7 linked regions of the Homo sapiens genome follow. The protein of the gene in region 4 purifies or fractionates together with the protein of the main gene of each other region. This does not show direct contact. Each region holds a gene or a part of one and is shown on either strand. Other genes may lie near its edges. The genes, in order: SRSF4, BACH1, POMK, POF1B, INF2, OLFM4 and TCTN2.

Region 1 (4,344 bases), on a different chromosome or scaffold from region 4:
GAGCTGAGATCGCACCACTGCGCTCCAGCCTGGGCGACAGCGAGACTCTGTCTCAAAAAATAAAATAAATAAATAAATAAGTAAACTGGAATCATTTTTTGTCAGCAGGCTGAGTGACCCTCTGACAAGTCTTGTAACTTGTTTGTAGTGTCAGTGTGTTTAAATGCAGAGGAACACTAGTCTGTGTGCCCGTGTACACACAGCCTTACTAGAGTTTAAAGAAATTGCTTGTAACTTTCCTTTCTGATTAGTTATGATCAATAAGATGGTTTTGGTTTTTAAATATAGGCAATGGTCACAAAGCTGGACTTTTCACAGCTGTGTCAGACCAAACTAAATATTTCTTGAAAACATAATTTACAGGGCATTTGTATAACCTTGCTTATAAGTATCTTACAAATTTTGCACTTTAGCTATATAAATTGTACTCTTTAATAGGCATTAGTAGGATGGTGGGGGTTCTTTTGGTTATATGTTAAGCCACCAAACCTCTTGGCTGGAAAAGATGTAGCAATACCATTTAAAGAAGTTTGCACGAGTTGTATACAGATTTCAGAGAATTCCATCCTATTCTAAAACTTCATGGAAATGAATTTGGAATCTCACAGGGAAGTAAACAGCTCCAGTCTTTTTTTCACTGATAATCACATGTGACAGATGTGTTTACGTAGAGGAACAGGAACCTTAAAAAAAAGTTTTTTACTTTCACATGATTCAACAGTTATTACACAGTGCCTGAATGTAGGTCTAATTGTTCTCTAAGATACCACTTTTAAAGCTAAAAAAGATGAGTTTTATGTGGTGTTTGAAAGAGCGTTATATGTCTTGTAGCATTATATATTTTGGATTCTTATACCAAGCATCCCTGTCTTTGCAGTTGCCACCAACTACTTGGGAAACAAAAGAAGTGTCCTGTGTATGTAGCCAGCCTCCTCCTAGAAAGATAGGAGTCTACTTTGAGAAGTCTCCCTACCTCTTTCAGTGCCTGTTGGCACAAAGCAAAGTGGTTTCACCTGAAGAGAAGACAAAGTTGATCCTTAGTTTGCAAAATCCACCTAACCTTTGCTAAGCATGAACCTCATTGCTTTCTCTTTAATGTTAGTGAAGCTGGATGTCAAAATGGTACCAACCAGTATTTTCTTTGCTCTCTTCTAGATATGGTTTTGTGGAGTTTGATGATCTGCGTGATGCAGATGATGCTGTTTATGAACTGAATGGCAAAGACCTTTGTGGTGAGCGAGTAATTGTTGAGCATGCCCGCGGCCCACGGCGAGATGGCAGTTACGGTTCTGGACGCAGTAAGCATTCAAAGGGCATACTTTTATCAGTAACGTGCTTTTGTTATCATGCTAATTTTTAAAGTAATTAATTGATATTACATTTAAACGTATTGATGTTTAAGCTATTTTGTAAATTATGTATCTTTTTTAAAAATGTAGAATTACAAATAAGCCTTTGATAATGTTTAATTTTAATTAAACTAATGACAATTTCTTGTTTATAATACTTTATAAATATGTTTAATGATGTGTGTTTGTGTTGTTGTTGTTTTTTTCTCTGTAATGCAATTGTTTAACATAGATTTAACAAAGACCTCAATGTTTTAATTAAAAGAATCCTTTGAGGCTAAGATGACTGCCTGTTCCATTTGCTGACCTTGGGTTACCTTTCCATGCGTGGCTCTTTGAACCATTGTGGCCCTTGGCTGACCAAAAACAGGAAGCCATGTGACGACCGCAACCTTTCCCCATTAGACCTGGGTGGTGAGGATCCCAAGGGTTAGACACAGATGAGATTAAACTGAAATAGGTGCCTGAAAATCTTTTTTTTTCCATATAAAATATTCACAAAATGTTTAATCACTGTGAGTAACACCAGTAACTGATTTAGTAATTTGGTTACTTATTTCTAAATTGTTAAATTGTTAATAGTTTTAAATTTATGCATGTTAATCTTAAATGCAAATATTAATGAATATGTATACTTACAACTTTTTAAATTAAATGTTTATATTTAGCTGATTGCTTCTTTAAAAATCTATTTTAGAATTAAGGGTGGGAATAGAGTTAAAACGTGCTATTGTTTGGGGTGGGGGTAAATAATATATTTAAGGGGGGGTGTGTGCTGTGTCATTTTTTTTCCTTTTCTTCCACTGAAATAATCTTATTTATTTGAACCTTCCAAAGGTGGATATGGTTATAGAAGAAGTGGCCGAGATAAATATGGCCCTCCTACTCGCACAGAGTACAGACTTATTGTGGAGAATTTGTCAAGTCGGTGCAGCTGGCAAGACCTAAAGGTTTGGGCCCCATTAACCTTTTGGGGTAAGGTTGGGCAGGAGTTAAAGTTGGGAAACAGGTAGATTTGTGCAGGCCCAGGCATACACAAAATACAGTGTTATATGTTTGAAAGCCTGCACAGAGCTGGAAATAATTAAAGTGCCATATGAGTACAAAATATATCAGAATTATATTCCTGCTATACATTGTGGGACCATCATTCTAAGGACACATTTGTGAGTTTGGTTTGGTTTGGTTTGGTTTGGTTTGGTTTGGTTTGGTTTGTTTGAGATGGAGTCTCGCTGTGTTGCCCAGGCTGGAGTGCAGTGGCACCATCTCTGCTCACTGCAGCCTCCGCCTCCCGGGTTCAAGCAATTCTCCATCTCAGCTTCCTGAGTAGCTGGGATTACAGGCACCCGCCACCATGCCCGGGTAATTTTTTTGTATTTTTAGTAGAGACGAGGTTTCACCATCTTGAACTCCTGACCTTGTGATCCACCCGCCTCAGCCTCCCAAAGTGCTGGGATTACAGGCGTGAGCCACCGCGCCCGGCCTGATTTTGTTTTGTTACAGAGTCTCTGTTGCCTAGGCTGGAGTGCAGAGGCACAATCATGGCTCAGAGATTGGTTGTCACTATGTTACCCCGACTGGTCTCGAACTCCTGGCCTCAAGTGATCCTTCAGTCTCAGCCTCCTCAAGTGCTGACATGACAGAAACCTGGCCCAAATGTGTGATAACGAAATTTCTCTCTGTAAAGAATGTTTGAAACCCTGTCTCTACTTAAAAAGATACAAAAATTAGCCGGGCGTGGTGGTGGGCACCTGTAGTCCCAGCTACTTGGGAGGCTGAGGCAAGAGAATTGCTTGAACCTGGAAGGTGGAGGTTGTAGTGAGCCAAAATCATGCCACTGCACTCCAGCCTGGGCAGTAGAGCAGGACTCTGTCTCAAAAAAAAAAAAAAGGGTTACAAGAAGATGGCAGTGTAGCTACTCACCAGTCAATAAAATGGTTGAAACCATCAGTGTTTCCTGCAGCATTTGCTATAACATGCAAATTCACATCAGCTTCAGTGTGTATCCTTACTGGTGAAATTGACAATCTGACCCATGTTTTTTCATAAGGTTTTTGATGGAATATTTGTCCTGAAAGAGGTTTGGTGTCAAGAATTAAGATTCAGTGCTAATGTTGGCCATCCAGTGTACTGGTTCCAGCTTTTTTTTTTTTTTGAGATGGAGTCTCGCCCTTTCGCCTAGGCTGGAGTGCAGTGGCGCCATCTCAGCTCACTGCAACCTCCGCCTCTGGGGTTCAAGTAGTTCTGCCTCAGCCCTCTGAGTAACTGGGATTACAAGTGCATGCCACCATGCCCGGCCAATTTTTGTATTTTAGTAGAGGCGGGGTTTCACCATGTTGACCAGGCTGGTCTCGAGCTCCTCCTGACCACAAGTGATCCACCTGCCTTGGCCTCCTAAAGTGCTGGGATTACAGGCGTGAGCCACTGCACCCGGCCCCACTTATTGACAACAGTGTTTTTAATCTCAATAGGAAGAAAAACTTACTGAGCAGTATCATAATCTGAATGGTCTTAGGAGGATGCATGAAACAGGTTTTGTTTTCTGTCTCCCTTCTCGCTTTTTTTGGCCATATTTAAACAAGTCATCTCTAGCCAAATGAGTGAAGTGTATTTAGGTTCAGGAAAGAATAGTTAGGAATCCTTTACATTTGTATAGTTTAATTTAAAGCACTTTTTTGTTTTTCTTTTTAAAATTTAATCCCAGCAACCTTCAAGTAACATGCAGAAGAGCTGGGACCAGGACTCCTGACTCCCAGTCTGCTGTTTTTTCAGGTGCATCATGCTTATCGTCAGCACCGTAGCAGACCTTTACTGAATGTCTGCCAGCAAGATTCTGCTTGCTGAAGGAATGACTCCAGTATTCTGAGAGTTAGGGATTGAACATCATGGGTAGAAACTGGAAAGCTACTCTCTTCATCAGTAGAATGCTAACTCGTCATGTAGTGCCACTAAATGTAATATTAAATTAACTTCTTAGAAAACCTCTTAATTTTTT
Region 2 (4,344 bases), on a different chromosome or scaffold from region 4:
TTTCACATTAGCAAAAGACTGTTGAAGTAGAGAGCATTTTGCCCAGCTCACTCGGATTCTTTGCTGGCATGCCTTCAGTTTCAGTTGTCATCCAGAGAAGTCAAAGGAAATGCTGCTTGGGGATGAGCATGTAATTACGATTAACTTTCCCTACTTCGTTGTCTCTTTGTGGTAAAAGACTGTCACAAGTGCTATTCAAACTATAGGTATTTTTTTTTAGATTTCTAAAAAGTATATTTTGTCTCTGAGGGCCTCCTGTCTTTGGACTAGTTTGTCTTTTTCCAGACCCCAGAAAGGCTGGGCCACCTTTTCTTCTTTGAGCAGGTTGGCAACAGTGGTCACAAATAGCAGAGGAGCTGAGATTCTAGAGAGCTATCCTACCACTGCTTCTCAGATGCCAGTGTGGAAACAGCCTCTTCTTTTTTGTTGAATTAGCTTGGAACAGCTCTCTAATCTCTGAAGAGTGAGGAAAAACTGTGTTTTTAAGTTTCAAGGCTAAGGCACTGTGTTCTCTTTTCTCCCTGTTCCTGCTGCTGTTCTCCCCCAACTCACATGAACGCATACTTAACTTTCAGTGTATGTGGACAGTAGGGTTGCTAAATTCATGTCAATATTTGTGGCATTCCTACATGTTAGGCATTTGGTTTACATTTAACTTATGAAACAAATGTTTAGGCTTTTATAAGCCAGGAACTTTTCCAGATATTGGCAATAATGAACTTTTCAGAAGTTACAGTCTAATAGACAGGCAAACTATTCCCATAGCATGCTATAGTAGCAACATGTAAAATGTGCTGTGGAACCACAGACTATTAAAAGCCTAAGTTTTGGGAAATCAAGAAAGCCTTAGGGATGTTTAGTGATGAATGCATAGGTTAGTGGAGGAAACAACTTGTATCAACTCAATTTGAGAAGCTTAGCTGTGAATAAGAGGAGAGAGAAATAGATTTTAGTAGGGAGAAGTTGGGTCAGGAAGAGTGTGTGTGTGTGTGTGTGTGTGTGTGTGTGTGTGTGTGTGTATTTAAAAATCCAGTCAATGGAAAAAGGTTGAAGATGCAGGCAACGTCCTTGTTTTGTCCTTGGCAAGTTCCTCTTATGGTTGCAAGATGGCTGCCACAAGTTCAAGTGTCACAAGAAAATATGACTTAAGTTTCCTGGAAGAAGACACACTTTTTTTTTTTTTTTCCTAGGTTGTTGCTATCAGTGAGAAAAATTTTTCCCTAAAGCCTCATAGCAGATGCTACCTTGTCCCTCTCTCCTCTCTTCATAGGTCAGCATTGCACACAAGCCAGTGCCTAAATGAGTCAAGGTCAAGGGGAATAGTACCGCTGTGATTGGCATAAATGGATCGTGATTCATCTTAGGTTGTGGCTGGGGTCTACTTCCTTGGAAGTTGATGGCCTCGGGTTGAGAGTAGATACGTGAGCACAGTCAGGGTTTGGTTAGAAAGTGAGGGGGTGAATGGTGTTGTGCAGTTAACAGTGACATCCTTGTCTACTAGTTCTGCCACCACTACACTTAGATACAAACTTCGGAGGAGAAAAAGAAAATGTGCTTGCCTTTGGATTTGGAATTTTAGGTGACTTTTTTTCCTCTTATATGCCATTTCCTTCTATGATCAAGTAGCACTTTTACAATCAAATCAAATCAATGGTTTATTTAAAAATTATTTAAAAATTGAAAATGCCAATTTTGTCAATAAATATATATAGAAGAAATAATTTTTTTTTTCAATGCTTTAAACATTTCAAAAGTTCCCTGCCATTGTCTTATTCCTTTCAGGGAGAGGAGAACATATAATTATATCTTGTAGTTTCTGATTATGTGTATACTAAGAGGACTACTCTGTCCCTCAGTCCATAGTGCACACCCACCTGTGGTCTCTATGGCTTGCACTGAGTGCTGAGGCCAGCCTGGCTCAGATAGAATTGTTAGTTCATTGGCTAGATGGGTCAGGATTCTTTAGAATGCAAATTCTTGAATCAGGAGTACAAACAGGAACATCTTCCCTTTTCTACACACTCATTCCCCTCCTCGAAGGGAAAGCTGTCCCGTAGTTAGCTTATTCGTCATTCTTTTCAGACTTTAAAATTAATGCCACCTTAAGTTTATACAGTATTCTTGTAGTACTCCTAACTTTTCTGTTTTGCTGTATGTGTACATTGTAGAAAGATTAAATCAAGCTAATTAACATGTCCATTACCTCACTTACCTTTGTGTGTGTGTGTGTGTGTGGTGAGAACCTTTAAATCTACTCTCTTAGCAATTTTGAAATACAGTAGGATCCCCACCCACTGTTTTACTTTCAGCAGTTTGTTACCTGTGGTCAGATGAAGTCCAAAAATATTAAATACAATAGATATTTTGAGAAAGAGACAAACATCACATTCACATAACTTTTATTACAGTATATGGTTATAATTGTTGTATTTTATTATTGTTAATCTCTTACTGTGCTTGATGAAAAAGCATAGTATATATATAGGGTTTGTTACTATCTGCAGTTTCAGGTATCCACTGGGGTTCTTGGAATGTATCCCCTGTAGATAAGGGGGACACCTGTGTATGTTGTTACAAGTATGATCACTGTGTAAAAGCACTTTTGTATTTCATTCTTGTTCCTTCTCAATCGCAGGTCTGGGTGCTTTCTGTGCTGTGAAAGGCAGACAAATAATGTAAATCCTAAACACTTGAGTGTTGTAAATTTACAAAATGAGAATTGCTCAATGGTTGTTTCTTTTTGAGAGTAACAAATAGACTGTGATAAATGGCCAGAGTAGGCTTCTGAACTGGTATTAGTTTTTTGGATAGAATTTAGAAAGACTTGTACTACCAATATAATTTTTGTCTCAGATAAATGCAATAGTATTTCCCTACTCAGTAGTTCCTCAGATGCTATTTAAACTGAGCTATATTTCAGCTTTATTTATAGGCTGCAAATTGTTCCTTATTTGGCTGAATCTTGTGGTTATGATATAATGAAAAGTAGTTACTGAGATCACTGGTGCAAATCTGTAGCTTGGAAATCCTCATTTTAGAAATGATTATTTTGACTCCCAAGTTAAATAGTAAAAAATAGACTTATGTTTTTAGTTTTAGCTATGTATATTGAGAAACTGTGGCCCTACGGTGGCTGTTAGGGATTAGTGGATTAGGTTGTTTTTAAATAAGACATTTCAGTTTAGTATCTCTACTTGAATAAAACAGTTTCAAATTTGTGATTCATATGATATACTGATTGCCCTACGGTAACTTCTGTTTTATTTAATTAAAATTGTTAACATTCTTTTTTATACTCTTAAGCACCTCCCTCCACCCTCACCCCCCTTTTTGACTCAAATTTTATTGTGAGTTGGTGTATAGTTAGGAATTTGAAGAGCACTTTTTTTGTTTATTTTATCTTTTCGGTTACTATGCATACTATGTGTGTCAACTCTTAAACCTGCAGGGGGTCATTTTGGCCATCAACTAGTTTTAGGGCTTTCGCCTCCTAAAGAATATGAATTATGGTTGTAATTTTTACAGTTTAAAAAACAAGATGGCATATGAAGAATCTTTATTTCATTATGAAAATAGAACATGGATGCTTAATCCTCTGTATTGAAAGTAACTTGTAGTGAAATACTTCCTAGTGTTCTCTTCTTCTAGTTGTCCATATGTAGTATGTATAACTATAGACCTTGATGATTTAAGTTGAGCACAGTTTAGTGTCAGGTTCCTTTCAGTGATGCATGAGATTGGTTATATGATCTAGTGAGTGTTATTTAGAAATTAATTCACCAGACCCGGGTGTGGTGGCTCATGCCTGTAATCCCAGCACTATGGGAGGGCGAGGCAGGCAGATCACCTGAGGTCAGGAGTTCGAGACCAGCCTGGCCAACATGGTGAAACCCTGTCTCTACTAAAAATATGAAAATTATCTGGGCGTGGTGATGCTCGCCTGCAATCCCAGCTACTTGGGAGGCTGAGGCATGAGAATTGCTTGAACCTGGGGGACAGGTGTTACAGTGAGCCAAGATTGTGCCACTGCACTCCAGCCTGGGTGACAGAGTGAGACTCTGTCTCAAAAAAAAAAAAAAAAGAAAGATTCACCAAATATTGATTAATAAGGGGAAATTTGTTGTTCCACAAATGCCCATTTAATCTGTTTGTGTAATAGTGTTCCTTCTCATCACACACAGGATACTTGGGGTATTTCTTGAACTCCTTGTTCTTCCATCCCTCCTCAGTTTTACCTATTCTTCCCCCACATACCACTTGAGTCATGTAACATGAATTGAAATGTAATATTTGGACCTGGGAGCAGAGACTTTTTCAGTCTTTAAATTATTGCCCTTCTCAAGC
Region 3 (4,054 bases), on a different chromosome or scaffold from region 4:
TCACCCAGGCTGGAGTGCAATGGTGTGATCTTGGCTCTCTGCAACCTCCACCTCCTGGGGTTCAAGCTACTCTTCTGCCTCAGCCTCCTGAGTAGCTGGGATTACAGGCATGCACCACCATGCCCGGCTAATTTTGTATTTTTAGTAGAGGTTTTAGGTTTTAGGTTTCGTCATGTTGGCTAGGCTGGTCTCCAACTCCTGACCTCAGGTGATCTGCCTGCCTTGGCTTCCAAAAGTGCTGGGATTATAGGTATGAGCCACCGCACCCAGCCGTACCATTACTTTTATCTGTTATAACTGTATAAATATATACATTTTGGTGACCGCATGATATATATATATATTGAATGATCCTCCCACCTCAGCCTCCCCTGAGTAGCTGGGGGTACATGTACGCTCCATTACACCCTGCTTGTTTCTTAATTTCTTTCTTTTTTTTTTTTTTTGAGACAGAGTTTCACTCTTGTTGCCCAGGCTGGAGCACAGTGGCGTGATCTTGGCTTACGGCAACCTCTGCCTCCCGGGTTCAAGTGATTCTCCTGCCTCAGCCTCCCAGGTAGCTGGGATTACAGGCATGCACCACCACGCCTGGCTAATTTTGTATTTTTAGTAGAGTCAGGGTTTCTCCATGTTGGTCAGGCTGGTCTTGAATTCCTGACCTCAGGTGATCCACCCGCCTTGGCCTCCCAAAGTGTTGGAATTACAGGTGTGAGCCACCACGCCTGGCCCACCCTGCTAGTTTCTAAAAAATGTTTTGTAGAGATGGGTTCTCACTATGTTGATCATGCTGCTCCCATCTTTTGATAAGTTTCAGTGTATGCTTTTATAAATAATGTCAGATTTTTATTCCTGGAGCTTCTTACCTATTTCCGATTATTGCCTTAGATTTAGATGTTAGAGTCTCTTGATAAATAATGCAAAAAACTGCTTTGGAAACCATAACCTTTATTTGAACAATGACATGGCACACTGCTTGCAGAATGAGCCTGGGGCAGGAATCTCCTGAGTCCTGAGCCTGCTTTCTCTTTTGTAATCTTCTGCCTTCTCTTGGGATTTAAGCAAAAGATCAGAGGTTCTTCCTTTAATTACAGTGCTTCCTGCAAGCAAATGAAAGGTGAAAATCCAAGGCAGAAATGTGAACTTGCTCTTCTATTAGCTGTGGACTCTATGAGAAGGTCTAGTGTTTATGTAGCATTTCAGCTCCTGCCTTTACAGCTGAAGTAACACCAAACCACAGAACATGCAAAAATGTTTTCCTTACATATAAATGTTCCTATTTATGATTTACTATGCCACCTTTTAAAATTAATGAGTAACATTGTTACACGTGATGGGCAGGGCTCTACGCCCTCATGTAGGCTTTTCGGGGTCTCCACACTTACCCACTTTTCCAGTCCACTCCCCTGCCTCCTCTTCCTCCCCACCCACTGTGTGGTGGTCCATTGGAACTGGCAGTCTACTTGCCACTCCTCCCTGCCATGCAGTTATATGGAGTCTTCCCTCCTGAGCTAGCACTCCCCTGCCCTACATTGAATCTGCAGGTCCCCCTCGTTCTATGAGACCAGCTTCCCAAAGCCTTCCAGCACCCTCTGCAGCAGCTCTCAGTGTCCTGCCCAGAGGCAATCGCTTCCTGCCCTGAGGTTCCACCCACTAATGTGGCACTTGCCTTGCTGAATGCTGTGTTTGCTCATCGGTCTCTCTTCATAACTAGACGGAGAGCAACTCTACGATGGGGTCTGCACCTTGTTAATTTCTGTATCTTCTGCAGAACACCTGCCACTTAAAAGATATTTGTTGTTCTTTGGTCACTAAATTAGGTGAGAGTTCAGGCCTGATGCTCTCTATGGCTTTGTTGCAGGTCTTTCTGTCTGAGTGGAAGGAGCACAAAGTTGCACTCTCACAGCTCACCAGCCTGGAGATGAAAGATGATTTCCTCCATGGACTGCAGATGCTGAAATCTCTCCAAGGCACACATGTTGTCACGCTGCTTGGCTATTGTGAGGATGACAACACTATGCTTACTGAATATCACCCTCTAGGTTCCTTGAGTAACCTGGAAGAAACACTAAACCTTTCAAAGTACCAAAATGTGAACACGTGGCAGCACAGGCTGGAGCTGGCCATGGACTATGTCAGCATCATTAATTACCTGCACCACAGCCCTGTGGGCACACGGGTCATGTGCGACTCCAACGACCTGCCGAAGACACTGTCCCAGTATCTGCTAACAAGCAACTTCAGCATTTTGGCAAATGACTTGGACGCCTTACCCCTGGTGAACCACAGCTCCGGGATGCTGGTGAAGTGCGGCCACAGGGAGCTGCATGGGGATTTCGTGGCTCCAGAGCAACTGTGGCCCTATGGAGAGGACGTGCCTTTCCACGATGATCTCATGCCCTCATATGATGAGAAGATTGACATTTGGAAGATCCCAGACATCTCCAGTTTCCTTCTGGGGCACATTGAAGGGAGTGATATGGTCCGATTCCATTTGTTTGATATTCACAAAGCATGCAAGAGCCAGACTCCCTCAGAAAGACCCACTGCCCAGGACGTTCTGGAGACCTACCAGAAGGTCTTGGATACACTTAGAGATGCCATGATGTCTCAGGCAAGAGAGATGCTGTGAAAACCAGTCCAGCCAATGAAGGTGGGATTGAAGGGCTGAATGGAAGTTACAGCATTCTACTCTGATGGTGGAGTTTTTTGCCTGAGTTTCGTGTTTTATTGTTTTTTTTATGGCTTAGCCATGTGGTTCGTTGTCCACATCCACATGTACGTTTGTATGTAGTCCACATTGGTTGTTAGATTTTTTTTTTTTTCTTTGAGATGCGGTCTTGCTCTGTTGCTGAGGCTGGAGTGCAGTGATGTGATCTTGGCTCACTGCAGCCTCTGCCTCCCAGGTTCAAGCAATTCTCCCACCTCAGCCTCCTGAGTAGCTGGGATTACAGGCACACCACCACGCCTGGCTAATTTTTGTATTTTTAGTGGAGGTGGGGTTTCACCATGTTGGCCAGGCTGGTCCCGAACTCCTGACTTCCTCGGCCTCCCAAAGTGTTGGGATTACAGGCATGGGCCACTATGCCTGGCCAGTTGTTAGATTTCCATGGATTTGTAGTTTCCAAAGTTTCTCGTTATTGATTTCTACTTTTCTTCCATTGTGGTCTGAGAAGGTACTTGATATGATTTAGATTTTTAAAAATTTATTGAGACTTGTTTTGTGGTCTAACATATGGTCTATGCTGCAGAATGGTCCATGTGCTGATGAGAAGAATGTATATTCTGCAGCTGTTGGAAGAAAGGGTCTGTAAATGTCTGTTAGGTCCATTTGGTCTATAATGCAGATTAAGTCTGATGTTTCTTTCTAGATGATCTGCCCAATACTGAAAGTGAGGCATTAAAATCCCCTGCTTTTTTTTGTATTAGGATCTGCCTCTCTCTTTAGCTCTAATAGTGTTTGTTTATACATGTGAGTACTTTGGTATTGGGTGCATATATATTTAAAATTGTTACATCCTTTTGCTGAATTGATCCCTTTTTCATTATGTAATGATCTTCTTTGTCCCTTTTTATGTTTTCTGACTTAGTCTATTATGAATAAGTATAGCTACTCCTGCACATTTTTGGTTTAAATTTGCACGGAATATTTTTTTCCATCTGTTCACTTTCAGTCTATATGTGTTTTTACATGTGAAGTGAGTTTGTTATAGGTAACATATAGTTGAATCTTGTTTTTTTAAAATCCATTCAGCCAGTCTATGTATTTTAATTGGAGAATTTAAATTATTTACATTCAGGGTTTTTATTGATAGGTGAGGACTTAGTCCTGTGCATTTGTTTTCTGATTGTCTTGTATATATTTTTTCCTATCTTTTTTATTTATTTTTATTTTTTATTTTGAGACAGAGTGTTGCTGTGTCTCCCAGGCTGGAGTGCAGTGGCAGGATCTCGGCTCACTGCAACCTCTGCCTCCCAAGTTCAAGCAATTCTCCTGCCTCAACCTCCCAAGTGGCTGGGATTACAGGTGCCCACCACCACACCCAGCTAATTTTTG
Region 4 (4,344 bases):
GTTTTTATCAAATTTAACAATCTTTGCTTTTTAATTGAGTGTTTAGGCAATACATATCTATATGGATAGATTTAAATTTACTATCTTGCTATTTGTTTTCTATTTACCTCACATTTTCTTTCTTTCTCTTTTCCTCTCTTCTTTTGGATGAATTATTTCTTCATGTTTCATTTAACCTATTTTATTAGCTTATTAGGTATACTTCTTTCTTTTGTTTGCTGTAGGGTTCATAATATTCTTCAAGTGATCACTGCCGACTTCCAATAATATTATATCCCATCACATGTAGCATAACAACTCTGTAATAATCAACTTCCATTTCCTTCATATGACTAATATGACTTCTACTATTTTTATCATATAAACTTCTTTCACATATATTATTAGCCCCTAAATACATTATTGTTTTTGTTTTCAACAGCCAACTATCTTTTAAAGAAATGTTAACAATAAGAAAAACAATGTTGTAAATTTACCTACATATTTATCTTTTCTGGTGCTATGTATTACTTTGATCAAATTCAAATTTCTATCTTGTATCATTTTCCCTTTGCCTTAAAAACTTCTTTTAACATTTTTTATCATGCTTCTCTGGTGAAGACTTCTTTTGGCCTTTTAAGTCTAAAAACAGTCTTTATCAATTCTTCATTATTCAAAAGTATTTTTGTTGTGTATAGACGAGTAAGCTGGTCATTTTTAAAAATTTTTTATTATACTTTAACTTCTAGGGTACATGTGCACAATGTGCAGGATTGTTACATATGTATACATGTGCCATGTTGGTGTGCTGCACCCATTAACTCATCATTTGTATTAGGTATATCTCCTAATGCTATCCCTTCCCCCTCCCCCCACCCCACGACAGGCCCCAGTGTGTGATCTTCCCCAACCTGTGTCCAAGTGTTCTCATTGTTCAATTCCCACCTATGAGTGAGAACATGTGGTGTTTGGTTTTCTGTCCTTGCGGTAGTTTGCTCAGAATTATGGTTTCCAGCTTCATCCATGTCCCTACAAAGGACGTGAACTCATCCTTTTTTATGGCTGCATAGTATTCCATGGTGTATATGTGCCACATTTTCTTAATCCAGTCTATCATTGATGGACATTTGGGTTGGTTCCAAGTCTTTGCTGTTGTGAATAGTGCCACAATAAACATACGTGTGCATACGTCTTTATAGCAGCATGATTTATAATCCGTTGGGTATATACCCAGTAATGGGATGGCTGGGTCAAATGGTATTTCTAGTTCTAGATCCTTGAGGGATCGCCACACTGTCTTCCACAATGGCTGAACTAGTTTACAGTCCTGCCAACGGTGTAAAAGTATTCCTATTTCTCCACATCCTCTCCAGCACCTGTTGTTTCCTGACTTTTTAATGATCGCCATTCTAAGTGGCCTGAGATCACTGTGGTTTTAATTTGCATTTCTCTGATGGCCAGTGATGGTGAGCATTTTTTTCATGTGTCTGTTGGCTGCATAAATGTCTTCTTTTGAGAAGTGTCTGTTCATATCCTTTGCCCACTTTTTGATGGGGATGTTTGATTTTTTCTTGTAAATTTGTTTGAGTTCTTTGTAGATTCTGTATATTAGCCCTTTGTCAGATGGGTAGATTGTAAAAATTTTCTCCCATTCTGTAGGTTGCCTGTTCACTCTGATAGTAGTTTCTTTTGCTGTGCAGAAGCTCTTGAGTTTAATTAGATCCCATCTGTCAATTTTGGCTTTTGTTGCCATTGCTTTTGGTGTTTTAGTCATGAAGTCTTTGCCCACGCCTATGTCCTGAATGGTATTGCCTAGGTTTTCTTCTAGGGTTTTTATGGTTTTAGGTCTAACATTTAAGTCTTTAATCCATCTTGAATTAATTTTTGTATAAGGTGTAAGGAAGGGATCCAGTTTCAGCTTTCTACATATGGCTAGCCAGTTTTCCCAGCACCATTTATTAAAAAGGGAATCCTTTCCCCATTTATTGTTTTTGTCAGATTTGTCAAAGATCAGGTGATTGTAGATGTGTGGTATTATTTCTGAGGGCTCTGTTCTGTTCCATTGGTCTATATTTCTGTTTTGGTACCAGTACCATGCTGTTTTGGTTACTGTAGCATTGTAGTATAGTTTGAAGTCAGGTAGCGTGATGCCTCCGGCTTTTTTCTTTTGGCTTAGGTTTTTCTTGGTAATGTGGGCTCTTTTTTGGTTCCATATGAACTTTAAAGTAATTTTTTCCAATTCTGTGAAAAAAGTCATTGGTAGCTTGATGGGGATGGCATTGAATCTATAAATTACCTTGGGCAGTATGGCCATTTTCACGATATTGATTCTTCCTACCCATGAGCATGGACTGTTCTTCCATTTGTTTGTGTTCTCTTTTATTTCCTTGAGCAGTTGTTTGTAGTTCTTGAAGAGGTCCTTCACATCTCTTGTAAGTTGGATTCCTAGGTATTTTATTCTCTTTGAAGCAATTGTGAATGGGAGTTCACTCGTGATTTGGCTCTCTGTTTGTCTGTTATTGGTGTATAGGAATGCTTGTGATTTTTGCACATTGATTTTGTATCCTGAGACTTTGCTGAAGTTGCTTATCAGCTTAAGGAGATTTTTTACATTTTTTTTAAAAAAGTACTTTAACAATATTGCTCTTCTGTCTTCTGACTTTCATTGTGACTGAGAAGTTTTTTGTTAATCTTATGATTTTTGTTCTTTGAATAATGTCCTTTCTTCTCTGAGGCTGTTTTTAAGATTCTCTTTCACTGGTTTTCAAGAATTTGATAATGATGTGCCTCTCTGTAGTTTTCTTCATGTTTCTTTTTTTCACGTTCACTGAGCTTCTTGGATACGTGTGTTTATAGCTTTACATCATGCTTGGAAATAATTTGGTCATTATGTCAATTATTTTTTTCCACCACCAATCCTGCAGGACTTTAATTATATATATATGAGGACATTTGATATTTTCCACAGTTATTTCATGCTGCATTCATTTTTTTCCGTTTTCTTTTATGTTTTATTTTAAATTATTTATTTTGATGTATTAAAATTTATCGGTCTTTTTGTAATGCAGTGCCTAATCTGCTGTTAACTCCACCTAATTTTTTTAATGTTTAGTAGTCCAATGTGGATCTTTTTTATATTATCTATTTCTCTCCTGTGTTCATGCTTTCCTCTAACTTCTTGAATATACCTTGTATATTTTATATGTTTCTAATAGATGCACATTTACCTACTAATTTTTTTATCAGTGTTGTCTCTTGGTCTGTTTCTACTAATTTATATTTCTCTTCATTATTAGTCGTATCGTCCATTGCATGACTATTCATTTTTCGTTGAATGCCATGAATTGTGATTTTATATTGTTGAGTTTTAGATTTTCGCTAGGGTATTACTTAAAATATTTGGAGTTTTGTTCTGAGATGAAATTATTTGGAAACAATTTAATACATCCAAGCCTTGCTTTTAAACTCTTTGAGAATAACCTGTACTTTGAGGCTAATTTTATCCCACTACTAAGGCAATATTCTGCAGTATCTATCTGATGGCCTCTATATCAGGAGAGCTTTTCACTCTGGTTTTGTTAGTGGAACACAAAACATTACCATCCCTATGAGAGCTCCCAAAATTGCCAGCCTGCTCCTTTCTAGTCATTATTTCCTAAGTCTTGGTAGCTTCTTCACATACAGGCACACTGATCAGTTTTCACCCAAAGGCTTTTGGGAAAACCTCTACAGCTGTCCTGACCTCTCTCTATCTATGTAGCTCTCTTCTGTCTGATACTCTGCCCCACAAACTCTGGGTGCCTTTGCCTATATTTACTCTAAACTTTATCACCTTATCTTGGTGAGACTGCTGGGATCTGTTTAGCTTCCTTTTACTTATCCCGTGACCAAGAAAATCTCTCCAGGCAGTGAGCTAGGCACTTGTAGGGCCCATATCATTTGCTTCCCTTTTCTGGGGTCACTGTCCTGTGCTGCCAGTCGTCCATCATGGCCAGAAACAGAAGTCCCTCTATTTTATTTTCTTGAAAATAATGGTTGTACATCTCTGTCCATTGAAATAGGGTTTTTTTATTTTTTTGTTTTTTCAGTAACAGTTAAAAAGTCATTCAGAGCCGAATTGGCTTAATTAGGGCAATCAAACTAGGAGTGACTAAAAAGGAATGAAAGTTATTTTCTCATGCAGCCTGTAAACTAACTCTTTTCTTGCCAACAGGTACAGGACACAATATCCAATCCTAGGCCTCCTATATGATGACTACGAATATATACCACCAGGTAGTGAAACACAGACTATTGTGATTGAGAAAACAGAAGACAAATACACTTGTGTAAGTTCACTTGGGCATTTTTAGCCCTATTTTGACG
Region 5 (4,344 bases), on a different chromosome or scaffold from region 4:
CTGTGAGATGTTGCTGTCTTTTGATCATTTTGCTTGCTTTCTTCCTCAGTATGAAACGACCATATTCATCCGAGATGCAGCTTCAGTTAGTGATTGGGCAGGTGTCCCGGTGGTATCGCACCCACCATGTGATTGAAATCCGTCACCATGCGGCCTGCTTCCCATCTTTGTCTTCTGATCATGATGCTGCTGAGAGCGCCTTTCTGCCCACCTGCTCCCAGGGGGCCCTTCTGTCCTGCTGTGGGTCCTCACAGTGGCCCGGGGGCCCTCTTTGCACAACAAGCGGAGTTCAAGATCTTGGAGGGCTTTGGAGGCAGGAGCCTTGCACTCCATCCAGATCTTGGGGACTGCAGGTGGCATGAGGGCTGGAGTGCTTCTTGGGTGTGAGACGGGCCAGGTGACAGTGAGGACACAGCCAGCCCTCACCAAGGCCCAGTGCGCCCCATGCCCCTGGACACGTGGCAGTGGGTGGACCCCCATCCTCACCTGCCTTGAGGCCCCCTGTGCACAGACCCTCCCTGGGCCTTGCCGGCAGTTGGTGAGCCACCAGGTCAGTAGAGGTCCCTCAAGGGGCTGTTGGCCTGGTGGGGAAGGTGACACATGCTGGAGGCTCAAAGGAGCTGGGAGTCTGAGTGTGAGGGAGGGGAATGGGGGTCATGGTAGGGCAGGTTCAGCTCCAGGTGCCTCCACCGCCCTGCAGGGCCTGGGCTGCCCAGAACCCCGGGGTGCTGCCAGGAACGCGTGCAGTCCTGGAGATCCATGGGTTGCCAAGCAGTGGAAAAATTGGGGCTCTCGGAGGAGCTAAAAATACAGTGTGGCAGCCCCTGCCTCCTAGTTCCGGAATCCTCTCCTGCCGTTCTGCCCACCCACCCCGTGGAAGACAAGCTCCCTCCCTGCACCCCCACCACCAACGCTGGCTCAGGGCCCAGAAGCACCCAGCCCTGTGCCAGTGCCAGAAGGGCGACACCACAGCTGCCTGCCCACTCCCAGGCAGCAGCCCCCCACAGGTGCTCATGTGCCCAGCCAGTGCCTGCCCTACCCCCGCCACTGCTTCAGGGTCCCCAGAGCCCCTTGGTCCCAGGCACAGTAGGCAGTACCTGCCACCCCAGGGCTGCCAGGCTCAGGGCTTGGCCTGTTCCTCGTGGGGAGCCTGGACCCAGGCAGACCTCTCCCTTCCCTACCAGTGGGGACTTCACAGGGGAGGGGGCTGTCCCAGGCAGACTCAGAACATGTCACAGCGGGGGCCTCCAGGCCCATTGGTGCTGGCCGAGGGCATAGGAGCTCCCACACTGTGCTGTGGAAGGCCCTCCTCGCCTGGCTCCTGGGAGGCAAGTGAGGGAGCCGAGGCCTGGGGGCTTCAGTGGCTGGCTCAGGTCCCTCGCGTGCTGGGATTCAAGTCTGGGTACCCTAACCCTGGCCTGTGTGCCGCTCAGAACCATGGGCCCATGCAGGAGCCCCCAGCTACTCTCCACAGCTCGGTGCTGGGCCTGCCTCAGGAGCCCACACTCCCTGGCTCTGGTTTTCTGTCTGCACCGCAGGGGCTAGGCACATGGCTGCAGGTCTAGTGAAGGCCAGCATGGCCCTGTCCCCACCCACACCACACACTCAGCTTGACTGTTGACTGCTAGGCGGGGCGGTGGCCCGGTGGCTTCCCGAGAGTCAGTGCAGCTGCCCTAGCATGTAGGCATTCGGATGGAGGTGCTGGCATCACCACACCAGGCTGGCCAGGCCCAGGCCCAGAGGGGGACCCTGCCTGCCAGAGCTAGAGTCAGGGGAGAGGCATGGCCCCGTCCTCTGGAAGCCCCAGGCTATTGGTTGACAAAAGCAAGTGCTGAAGAACCATGGTGATGTCCCACTAGCATGGGTGGGGTGAGCCCCTCAGACCTCAGAGTCTTCATCTGCAAAAGACCCTGCCCTGTGCAGTTCCATTGGTGCTGGTGGACTGCCGGGGGGGGTGGATGGGACGCCCCTTCTTGGTGCCCTGACCCTTTTGCTGTCCAAGGCATGGGGTCTGGCCTGAGCCATGGGTACTGGGCCCTGCAGAGCCTGGATGGTCCTGCCCTGCCTCAGCCAGAGCTGGTGCCGGCTGTAGAAAAGATTGCGAAGAACGCAAATTCCTGTGCCTGTGGGGAGGTGGCCACGCCCTACAGCCGGGGCTGGGGAGCTCTGAGGACACATTCCTGCGCTGGTGGCCCCGCCAACCCACTTTCCAGATGGAGAGCAGAGGGGAAGGGTAGCCTGCCCAGGGGCACACAGCTCAGCAATGAGACTCCCGCCCCCTTCCCTTCTCAGTTGGCACTGGCACCTTCCAGCGTATTGTTCCCCATAGCCCCGTGCCCCTGAGATCAGTAAACTGTGGATTCCTTCTGGAATCCTTGCAGAAGTGGACACCACCCCCCAGTGAGAACAGGCAAGGCTGTTTTTGCAGAGCTCGCTGTAGCAGGGAGTCGGCCACCGCCACCCGCGTTTAGCAGAGACTCACAGGCGGGCGGGGGAGTGGGAAGCCTCATGGTTTTCTCATATGGATAATTCACTCTATACATAGAAAGCTTTTTATAGACACAGGGAAGGCTCGGGGATGCCCTGAGAGAGGCTGCTGGCTGGAATTTGGGCTCCTATGAGATGAGACAAAAATCACAGAAGCTGTCAGTTATTACCCAGGTCCCAGCCATTTGGGGCCAGTGGCCAGATTGCGGGTCAGAGTGCTGCATATATGGTCTGGCCGTGGTGTGTTTGCAGGTTCAGCCTCATGCTGAAAAGCAGTTGGAACATTCTCCGGTGTAGAGCCTGACGGGGGGCCTGGGTGAGATCGGGCAGCCTTGGCAGCACCACAGAAGGAGGAGAGCAGCTCCGGCCTCAGCCTCCGGGGCCTCAGCCGGAGCCCTGTCTATGCCGGGCCGCAGCCCAGCGAGACCCTGTTACACTCACTGCCCCCAGACAGCACCCGGTGGGACACGGCCAGCTGGGGCAGCTCAGACACAGAGCCAGGCACCCAGGCACGGGGGTATAGGAACCTGATGGGCAGGAGGGCCAGTTTCCTCCCACCGTGGCTCCACCCCACTGACCAAGGGGGATCCTCTTGACTGGGGTCTTTCAGGGGCTTGCACAGGGCAAGGAGCGCTGGGCAGTGCCAAGAGGGGCAGTACTCAGGTCAGGGAGCATCTTCTGTGTCCAGGGACACCCTGGGGCCTGGGGCACGGTGGCTCTCGGCGGCACTGCTTGTCTCTAAAAGGTCAGGATTTTTTGCATGGAGGGACCCCCGGGGCTCTTGGCTGGAGAGGACACTCTGGATGCCAGGGGCCGGGCCTGGGAGAGTTCATAACTCCGTCCACTCAGCCTGTGCCAAGGGGACAGGGACTCCGGCCAATGGAGGCGGGGGAGGAAAGGAGGGTCAGTTCTGGGGCCTCTTTAGGCAGCAACAGCCAAGGCGGGTGGGAATATATGCAGAGGCCCGGCTGCCTGGCTCTTCATGGTGGTGGGAGCAACCCTACTGCCACCAGGAGGGGCGTTGGGGACCTGAGGCTGCCTGGGAGGGACCCGGCTGTCTCTGGCAGCTCAGCGGTCAGCAGCGATGAGAAGCCAGGGGAGCGTGAGGAGCAGCCCAGGACAGGGCCCAGAGTGGGTGGGCAGAGGTGGCCGGAAGGTCTTGCGCATCTGGGTGAGTGGACGGCCACTGGGTGACCAAGAGGGCCGGGCCTGGGAGGGTGGCTTAAAACCACAGTGCACCGGGGGCTCCGGGCTCTCCGTTCTACAGTGCCCAGACCAGGACCCCCTGCAGGGAGGAGGGGCATCCCAAGGACAGCCTCTCAGGATGCTCCTGGCAGCCTGGTGCTGGAGGTGCAGAAGAAGAAACTGAGGCCCAGGCAGGATGAGTGACTGGGCCAAGGTCTGCTGGTGAGGGCCCGGGCTGGGGACATGCAGATCAGAACCCTGGCTTACACCTGTCAGGCTGCCTCCTGGAAGGAGCCCACTGGCCCCCTGGGGCAGTTGGACAGGTGGAGGGCTGAGGGGCGGTGCGGGGAGTAGGGGCTGGACTGCCGGAAACACCAGGCTTGGTCGTGGACCAGGCTGGGGAGTGGGCCTGAGACCTCAAGGGCAGGTGCTCCAGGACACTCTCCCAAGGCAGGAGGGGAGGAATAGAGCCTCCTGGGGAGGCAGGCGCTTGGGTGCTCGACCCCGCTCAGCTCCCGTGACCTCAAATGCCCTTCAGCCTGGGGTCCCCTGACTTACCGGGTTGGGCAGCACTTGAAGCAAAGCCATGTGGGACCTCCAGTCACAGCCCAGCCGTGCCCAGGTGTGGGACTGTGGGCACAGACCCAGCTTCTCTAGGACCCAGCCGCCTCC
Region 6 (4,217 bases), on a different chromosome or scaffold from region 4:
TTAGCAAGGAAAGGAATGGGTCTTTCCATATTGGACACAGCAGAGACCCAGAGACAAAGGCTTTGCTCCCCCTTCCCCGCCTCCATGCTAATCTCAGGCAATTCTTTGGAGCTCTGCTTTTGGCTCCAGCTCACCTCATGTTCCTCAATGGCTCTCTGAGTCCCTGCAAGTATTTCAGGCCAAATCCAACAATTCAGGTTCTGCTCCTTTCCTGTCTCACCTGCTCTGCTCTGAGCAGCAGGACGAGGGAAAATGACCTCAAATATACTTGAAGTTGGGTTTTCTTTGTTATCCAATAAACCATCTCATGAGTTTTTTTGAGTGTTAAGATCCCAGAAAATGTGTGTTCAACTCTTTGGATAGTTATTATAAAAATACTGGAGGAACTTTATTTTATTTTTATAGCTCATAAACTCCTGGGATGGCAGGCATTTCAGCGGGAGTACAATGTGAAGGGTTGATCGCCCAGACTGAGTTATTTACCCAAGTGTTACAGGGAATGTAGATTCAGTGGACCAGTGAATCTTGTCCCACTTGATTGTACACATTGTGACAATGACAGTGTCTGGATGGAAAGATGAAATACTTGCATGTCATTCTATGGCACAATAGCATATGGGTTATGAACAGCAGGACTCACCATGTAACTCTGCAGCAGGACGGTCAGCAAGTGATTTATTGATGGGCTGTGCATTGGGTACGGAGCAGGCAATGTTGCCCCAAAATAACTTTATGGCTTCTCAAGGGTGAAATCCCACCATTATAGGACCATCTTTCTGGATCTATAAAATGCTATATTTAAAACATCCTCTTCTGAGAATAGCTTAAAGCAGGATTGGTACCTGGCGTGGATGTGCAATTGGGGGTCCCAAGGAAGGGGAGAGTGAGGAAGGGCATGAAGCCTTGCCTGGGAAAATCTTCTCCCTCATCACTATTCTTTCTGGGATAGATTTCTATAAATCTTGTGGATTTATAGAAATAGGGTAGGATTGTGGAATAATCTTGCTTCCTTGATTTTGCTATAAGAAAAACAAAATAAGATAATATTTGCAAAATGCTTTCTGATAGAAGGAAATATATTAAATTCACCAAGTCTCCCTTTCCTCTCTCTGGGCCTCCAAACTTTTTAAATATAGTTCTTGCTGGTTTCATTATTCCTATTTTCCAGATTGAAAGCCCACCCATGGAAACAGAATGTAGTTCTCTGTAGAGCTGACATTGGGTTTGCATTGAGACTGAATGCACTGAACTAAGAGGAGGTTTGGCTCTTCTCCATCAGAACCACTGTTGTTATTGAACCTTGACAGGAAAAATATTTATAGATTCCTTTGGTGCTTAGGATATTAAACTATTTGTATCCTGTCATTCCTTTTCTCTAAAAATGCCTTTTTATTTTCTTGTTTGTATAGGGAGCTGTGGTCATGGTGGTGTGGTGAACATCAGCAAACCGTCTGTGGTTCAGCTCAACTGGAGAGGGTTTTCTTATCTATATGGTGCTTGGGGTAGGGATTACTCTCCCCAGCATCCAAACAAAGGACTGTATTGGGTGGCGCCATTGAATACAGATGGGAGACTGTTGGAGTATTATAGACTGTACAACACACTGGATGATTTGCTATTGTATATAAATGCTCGAGAGTTGCGGATCACCTATGGCCAAGGTAGTGGTACAGCAGTTTACAACAACAACATGTACGTCAACATGTACAACACCGGGAATATTGCCAGAGTTAACCTGACCACCAACACGATTGCTGTGACTCAAACTCTCCCTAATGCTGCCTATAATAACCGCTTTTCATATGCTAATGTTGCTTGGCAAGATATTGACTTTGCTGTGGATGAGAATGGATTGTGGGTTATTTATTCAACTGAAGCCAGCACTGGTAACATGGTGATTAGTAAACTCAATGACACCACACTTCAGGTGCTAAACACTTGGTATACCAAGCAGTATAAACCATCTGCTTCTAACGCCTTCATGGTATGTGGGGTTCTGTATGCCACCCGTACTATGAACACCAGAACAGAAGAGATTTTTTACTATTATGACACAAACACAGGGAAAGAGGGCAAACTAGACATTGTAATGCATAAGATGCAGGAAAAAGTGCAGAGCATTAACTATAACCCTTTTGACCAGAAACTTTATGTCTATAACGATGGTTACCTTCTGAATTATGATCTTTCTGTCTTGCAGAAGCCCCAGTAAGCTGTTTAGGAGTTAGGGTGAAAGAGAAAATGTTTGTTGAAAAAATAGTCTTCTCCACTTACTTAGATATCTGCAGGGGTGTCTAAAAGTGTGTTCATTTTGCAGCAATGTTTAGGTGCATAGTTCTACCACACTAGAGATCTAGGACATTTGTCTTGATTTGGTGAGTTCTCTTGGGAATCATCTGCCTCTTCAGGCGCATTTTGCAATAAAGTCTGTCTAGGGTGGGATTGTCAGAGGTCTAGGGGCACTGTGGGCCTAGTGAAGCCTACTGTGAGGAGGCTTCACTAGAAGCCTTAAATTAGGAATTAAGGAACTTAAAACTCAGTATGGCGTCTAGGGATTCTTTGTACAGGAAATATTGCCCAATGACTAGTCCTCATCCATGTAGCACCACTAATTCTTCCATGCCTGGAAGAAACCTGGGGACTTAGTTAGGTAGATTAATATCTGGAGCTCCTCGAGGGACCAAATCTCCAACTTTTTTTTCCCCTCACTAGCACCTGGAATGATGCTTTGTATGTGGCAGATAAGTAAATTTGGCATGCTTATATATTCTACATCTGTAAAGTGCTGAGTTTTATGGAGAGAGGCCTTTTTATGCATTAAATTGTACATGGCAAATAAATCCCAGAAGGATCTGTAGATGAGGCACCTGCTTTTTCTTTTCTCTCATTGTCCACCTTACTAAAAGTCAGTAGAATCTTCTACCTCATAACTTCCTTCCAAAGGCAGCTCAGAAGATTAGAACCAGACTTACTAACCAATTCCACCCCCCACCAACCCCCTTCTACTGCCTACTTTAAAAAAATTAATAGTTTTCTATGGAACTGATCTAAGATTAGAAAAATTAATTTTCTTTAATTTCATTATGAACTTTTATTTACATGACTCTAAGACTATAAGAAAATCTGATGGCAGTGACAAAGTGCTAGCATTTATTGTTATCTAATAAAGACCTTGGAGCATATGTGCAACTTATGAGTGTATCAGTTGTTGCATGTAATTTTTGCCTTTGTTTAAGCCTGGAACTTGTAAGAAAATGAAAATTTAATTTTTTTTTCTAGGACGAGCTATAGAAAAGCTATTGAGAGTATCTAGTTAATCAGTGCAGTAGTTGGAAACCTTGCTGGTGTATGTGATGTGCTTCTGTGCTTTTGAATGACTTTATCATCTAGTCTTTGTCTATTTTTCCTTTGATGTTCAAGTCCTAGTCTATAGGATTGGCAGTTTAAATGCTTTACTCCCCCTTTTAAAATAAATGATTAAAATGTGCTTTGAAAAAAGTCATCTTTTGTTTTATTTAATTTTAATTTTTTTTTAAAGCTCTTAACAGGGTAGTCCATATCTTGCTATGAGGTTGGGAGAATGGCTACCTCCCAAACACTAGTGCGGGGAGATTGCACACCTAACAACAGATCACATCAATAACTTTTATAAGAGCCCAGAGTTAGGCTGGCTCTTTCATTTTTCTTTCCCTTTAAAATCCACTCTTTCTGGCAGCTTTTATTGTACATGACTGCCCTATTATCTTTTGGGATATGACCTTATGTACTTATTAATTTGCATGACTGATCTGATTATTTCCAATGCTAGACTACATTTATGTAGCTTATGTTCCTTTTCCAATTGAGCTATGAACATGGATCAGAAGCCTCTGGATCTTCCCCAGACAGGAGGACTTGGGCAGAAAGCAAAAGGACTAACTGGCTATACCAGGAAGAGAAGTACCTTTACCAAAGAGAATATGTAAGAAGACAGGTGACCTAGAGCTGGAAGGACACAGTGGACTGATGTAGTTAGTCTTACTGAAATGCTCATTTTGGATCCTTGCCAAACTTTTTGAGACAGATGGCAGCTATAATATTTAGTATTTTAGTAAGATTTTTCCCTATCTCTTCAGGGCTGAGTGTAGAGACAGGTATGCCCTTCAAAATGCAACAAGATATGAAGATAAAGACATGTATGTCATGTGAGATACAAGTTAAAAACCAGGATGTTATAT
Region 7 (4,344 bases), on a different chromosome or scaffold from region 4:
GTGCCTGCCACCATGACTGGCTAATTTTTGTGTTTTTGGTAAAGATGGGGTTTCACTGTGTTGGCCAGGTTGACCTTGAACTCCTGACCTCAGGTGATCCACTCTCCTAGGCCTCCCAAAGTGCTGGGATTACAGGTGTAAGCCATCGCGTCCCACCAGAATTAACCCTTTTAAAGTGTACAATTCATTGACATTAGTACCTTCCACACTGTTGTGCCACCATCACCTCTCTCTAGTTCCAGAACGTTTCATCGCCTCAGAAGGGCATCTGTACCCATTAGCAGTCACTCCCTACCCCTCTTCCCTCAGCTCCTGGCAGCCACCAATCTGCTTTCTGTCTCCGTGGATTGCTTATTCTGGGTGTTCCCTAGAAACAGAATCATACACTATGTGGCCTTTTGTGTCTGGCTTCTTTCACTGAGCATGGTGTTCCATGGTTCATCCGTGTTTGTAGTGTGTGGCAGCACTTCATTCCTTTTTATGGCTGAATCATAGTCCATTGCATGGACAGAGCACATTGTGTTTGTCCATTCCTCAGTTGATGGACATGTGGGTTGTTTTCATCTCTGACTGTTGTGAATAGTGCTGCCATGAACACTCGTGTCCAAGTTTTTGCGTAGATGTGTGTTTTTATTTCTTTTGGGTAGACACCTAGGAGTGGAACTGACAGGTCATGCTAATATGACTTCTTGAGGACCCACCAAATTGTTTTTTTTTTGTTTTTTTGGTTTTTTTTTTGAGAGGGAGTCTTGCTCTGTCACCCAGGCTGGAGTGCAGTGACGTGATCTCGGCTCGCTGCAACCTCCACCTCCCTGGTTCAAGCGATTCCCCTGCCTCAGCCTCCCAAGTAGCTGAGATTACAGGCATGTGCCACCACACCTGGCTAATTTTTTTTTTTTTGAGACCAAGTCTTGCTCTTGTCCGCCAGGCTGGAGTGCGATGGCGCGATCTCGGCTCACGGCAACCTCCACCTCCTGGGTTCAAGCGATTCTCCTGCCTCAGCCTCCCGAGTAGCTGGGATTACAGGCACCCACCACCACGCCCTGCTAATTTTTGTATTTTTAGTAGAGACGAAGTTTAGTAGAGATGGGATTTCACCATGTTGGCCAGGCAGATCTCGAACTCCTGACCTCAGGTGATCCACCCACCTCGGCCTCCCAGAGTGCTGGGATTACGGGCATGAGCCACCACGCCCGGCTAATTTTTTTGTATTTTTAGTAGAGAGGAGGTTTCACCATGTTGGCCAGACTGGTCTCAAACTGACCTCAGGCAATCTGCCTGCCTCGGCCTCCCAAAGTGCTGGGATTATAGGCGTGAGCCCCTGCGCCTGGCCAATTGTTTTCTACAGTGTCTGCACCATTTTGTATTGCCACCAGCAGTGAACTGCATATTTGTTTTTATGTCACAGTGACCCTGGTTTTTGTTTGTTTGTGTGTTTGTTGTGGATTTTCTTCCTCCGTTATAATTAGATGCTAAGAGGATGGGGACTCCTATCTGATGGTTTTTGGGGAGTGGGGAGGGTTTTGTAGTCAGCACCCTGGGCAGTTGCGGTCACCATATTTGCTTTGTAAGCTATACTTTGAGTAAGTGTGATCATGGTAGGCCATGTGTACGCCTGTGGAAGTTAATTTATGTTATCTCTTTAGGCATAGTTACACCAAAAGTGATCTATGAGGAAGCAACTGACCTAGACAAATTCATCACCAATACAGGTATTTAATGTTACACTTTGACGTCATTTCTTCAGAAACAGATATGTCATTTCTTACAAGTAATATATACCCTCAGAGTGTATATTTTTGTTAGTCATTTAAAAAGGTTCACAATAGTTAGAAAGATCTGCCAGGAACATTTCATTTGTTCCTCGTTCTGTCCTGCTGGGCTTTAGAGTGCTCTCTGTGACCTTGAGCCTGCTCCTCCACAGTCCTGGATTCTCTGAGTTCCACCGACCCTTCTAGTTCCAGCTTCCGTGAACCTTTCCTTAAATGTTTGATAGTTAAATAATTCTTTTTTTTTTTTTTTTTTTTTTTTTGAGGCGGAGTTTTGTTCTTGTCACCCAGGCTGGAGTGCAATGGCATGATCTCGGCTCACTGCAACCTCCGCCTCCTGAGTTCAAGTGATTCTCCTGCCTCAGCCCCCTGAGTAGCTGGGATTATAGTCACCCGCCACCACACCCAGCTAATTTTGTATTTTTAGTAGAGACGGGGTTTCTCCCTGTTGGTCAGGCTGGTCTCGAACTCCCGACCTCAGGTGATCCACTTGCCTTGGCCTCCCAAAGTGCTGGGATTATAGGTGTGAGCCACCGCGCCCGACCAGTTAAAAGAACTTTTTAGGGCACAGCATTTTCACTTTTTGCTTTCTTTCCTTTTTTTTTTTTTTTTTTTTTGATAATTAAACTTTCCAATTGTGATGCAGCCAAATAAGTTACGTAGAGTTTGGCAGATTTTTTTTTTTTTTTTGAGATGGATTCTTGCTCTGTCACCCAGGCTGGAGTGCAGTGGTGTAATCTTGGCTCACTATAACCTCCACTTCCTGGGTTCAAGCAGTTCTCCTGCCTCAGTCTCCCAAGTAGCTGGGATTACAGGTGTTCACCACCATATGCCTGGCTAATTTTTGTATTTTAGTAGAGACGGGGTTTCACCATGTTGGCCAGGCTGGTTTCGAACTCCTGACCTCAGGTGATCCACCTGCCTTGGCCTCCCAAAGTGCAGGGGTTACAGGCGTGAGCCACGGCGACTGGCTCAGTTTGGCTAATTTTACCAGAACTTTAGTTTTTAATGAAGGATACTGTTTGTTTCTTTCTTTTCTTTTTTTTTTTTAATTGGAGACAGAGTCTTGCTCTGTCGCCCAGGCTGGAGTGCAATAGGGTGATCTCAGCTCACTGTACCCTCCACCTCCCAGGTTCAAGCAATTCTCATGCCTTAGCCTCCTGAGTAGCTGGGATTACAGGCACCTGCCACCAATCCCGGCTAATTTTTGTATTTTTTTGTATTTTTTTTTTTTTGAGACAGTCTCACTGTCACCCAGACTGGAGTGTAGTGACACAGTCTCCACTCACTGCAACCTCTGCCTCCTGGGTTCAAACGATTCTTCTGCCTCAGCCTCCCGAGTAGCTGGGATTACAGGTGCCTGCCCCCATGCCTGGCTGATTTTTTGTATTGTTAGTAGAGAGGGGGTTTCACTGTGTTGGCCAGGCTGGTCTTGAACTCCTGACCTCGTGATCTGCCTGCCTCAGCCTCCCAAAGTGCTGGGATTACAGGCGTGAGCCACCGCACCCGGCCTAATTTTTGTATTTTTAGTAGAGACAGGGTTTCGCCATGCTGGCCAGGCTGGTCTCGAACTCTTGACCTCAGGTGATCTGCCCACCTCGGCCTCCCCAAGTGCTGGGTGTCTCTTTCTGATGTGTTGTACTTCTCAAATTTATTCATTGGCTCATCAAATGTTAGTGGAGTTCCTACGCCGTAGTAGGGAACTAGATAGCGGGCCCCTGCCCTGGCGGAACTGACCCTCTGGTCTTTCATCTCACAAACATTTTACCAAGTGCATGCTCCATGGCAAGCTATGAGCCAGGTGCTGGAGATATAGAAATGAAAGGAACAGATCTCATTCTGGGTACTGTGATGGCATAGAGGAGGCAGCTAATGCTGACTTGGTGGGACCAGGGCAGGCTTCCTCAAGGAAGCAGTGACCGTGCCATGTTAGGGAGCTGGAGATAGGGAGGGCAGGGGCAGGGCACTTGGGGAAGGCCACGCAAGCAGAGAGAACCTCCCAGTAACAGAGTCAGGCTCAAAGAGGGTCTTTAATTTATGAACATATTCTTGTATTTGCAGAAACTCCTTTAAATAACGGATCAACCCCTAGAATTGTGAATGTGGAAGAACATTATATTTTCAAATGGAATAATAATACCATCAGTGAAATAAATGTTAAAATTTTTAGGGCAGAGATTAATGCCCACCAGAAAGGTAACTTTGATGAGGGTAGCAAGCATGCTTTCACTGAAAAGTATTTTTTTTTCCTCTTTTCAAGATTCTCATAATTATAACCCATAAAACTAAGTTGGACTTGTTTCTTATGTGCATTTATGATTTAATTAACGAGAGTACACTTTGTATGACAAAATGCAATTTTAAGGTAAACACTATGGAGAATAATTTCTTTTCCTAGTGAAATGGTGCACATTATATTTTATTTTGTTTTATTTCTAGGGATAATGACACAGAGATTTGTAGTAAAATTTTTAAGCTATAATAGTGGTAATGAAGAAGAATTATCTGGAAATCCAGGTAAGATGAGTATATGCCAGTCATTGATCTTACAAACATACTTTAGTTCAACACTCCC

What was found.
Region 1: the proteins of POF1B (region 4) and SRSF4 purify together in Homo sapiens (co-immunoprecipitation; one large-scale study listed by IntAct). This does not show direct contact.
Region 2: the proteins of POF1B (region 4) and BACH1 purify together in Homo sapiens (co-immunoprecipitation; one large-scale study listed by IntAct). This does not show direct contact.
Region 3: the proteins of POF1B (region 4) and POMK purify together in Homo sapiens (co-immunoprecipitation; one large-scale study listed by IntAct). This does not show direct contact.
Region 5: the proteins of POF1B (region 4) and INF2 purify together in Homo sapiens (co-immunoprecipitation; one large-scale study listed by IntAct). This does not show direct contact.
Region 6: the proteins of POF1B (region 4) and OLFM4 purify together in Homo sapiens (co-immunoprecipitation; one large-scale study listed by IntAct). This does not show direct contact.
Region 7: the proteins of POF1B (region 4) and TCTN2 purify together in Homo sapiens (co-immunoprecipitation; one large-scale study listed by IntAct). This does not show direct contact.

Annotation. Positions count from the first base shown.
Region 1 is NC_000001.11:29,157,329-29,161,672, reverse strand, and holds part of SRSF4 (serine/arginine-rich splicing factor 4), read left to right. Parts: intron 1-877; exon of another isoform or gene 878-1,111; coding exon of another isoform or gene 1,112-1,155; coding exon 1,156-1,298; intron 1,299-1,662; exon of another isoform or gene 1,663-1,809; intron 1,810-2,186; coding exon 2,187-2,299; intron 2,300-4,344. UniProt on the Homo sapiens protein: Plays a role in alternative splice site selection during pre-mRNA splicing. Represses the splicing of MAPT/Tau exon 10.
Region 2 is NC_000021.9:29,305,193-29,309,536, forward strand, and holds part of BACH1 (transcription regulator protein BACH1), read left to right. Parts: intron 1-11; exon of another isoform or gene 12-130; intron 131-4,344. UniProt on the Homo sapiens protein: Transcriptional regulator that acts as a repressor or activator, depending on the context. Binds to NF-E2 DNA binding sites. Plays important roles in coordinating transcription activation and repression by MAFK.
Region 3 is NC_000008.11:43,120,249-43,124,302, forward strand, and holds the end of POMK (protein O-mannose kinase), read left to right. Parts: intron 1-1,858; coding exon 1,859-2,629; 3' UTR 2,630-3,186; downstream 3,187-4,054. UniProt on the Homo sapiens protein: Protein O-mannose kinase that specifically mediates phosphorylation at the 6-position of an O-mannose of the trisaccharide (N-acetylgalactosamine (GalNAc)-beta-1,3-N-acetylglucosamine (GlcNAc)-beta-1,4-mannose) to generate phosphorylated O-mannosyl trisaccharide (N-acetylgalactosamine-beta-1,3-N-acetylglucosamine-beta-1,4-(phosphate-6-)mannose).
Region 4 is NC_000023.11:85,282,166-85,286,509, reverse strand, and holds part of POF1B (protein POF1B), read left to right. Parts: intron 1-4,192; coding exon 4,193-4,307; coding exon of another isoform or gene 4,308-4,331; exon of another isoform or gene 4,332-4,344. UniProt on the Homo sapiens protein: Plays a key role in the organization of epithelial monolayers by regulating the actin cytoskeleton. May be involved in ovary development.
Region 5 is NC_000014.9:104,695,941-104,700,284, forward strand, and holds part of INF2 (inverted formin-2), read left to right. Parts: intron 1-4,344.
Region 6 is NC_000013.11:53,048,560-53,052,776, forward strand, and holds the end of OLFM4 (olfactomedin-4 precursor), read left to right. Parts: intron 1-1,409; coding exon 1,410-2,212; 3' UTR 2,213-3,498; downstream 3,499-4,217. UniProt on the Homo sapiens protein: May promote proliferation of pancreatic cancer cells by favoring the transition from the S to G2/M phase. In myeloid leukemic cell lines, inhibits cell growth and induces cell differentiation and apoptosis.
Region 7 is NC_000012.12:123,691,012-123,695,355, forward strand, and holds part of TCTN2 (tectonic-2 isoform 1 precursor), read left to right. Parts: intron 1-1,646; coding exon 1,647-1,712; intron 1,713-3,830; coding exon 3,831-3,965; intron 3,966-4,208; coding exon 4,209-4,286; intron 4,287-4,344.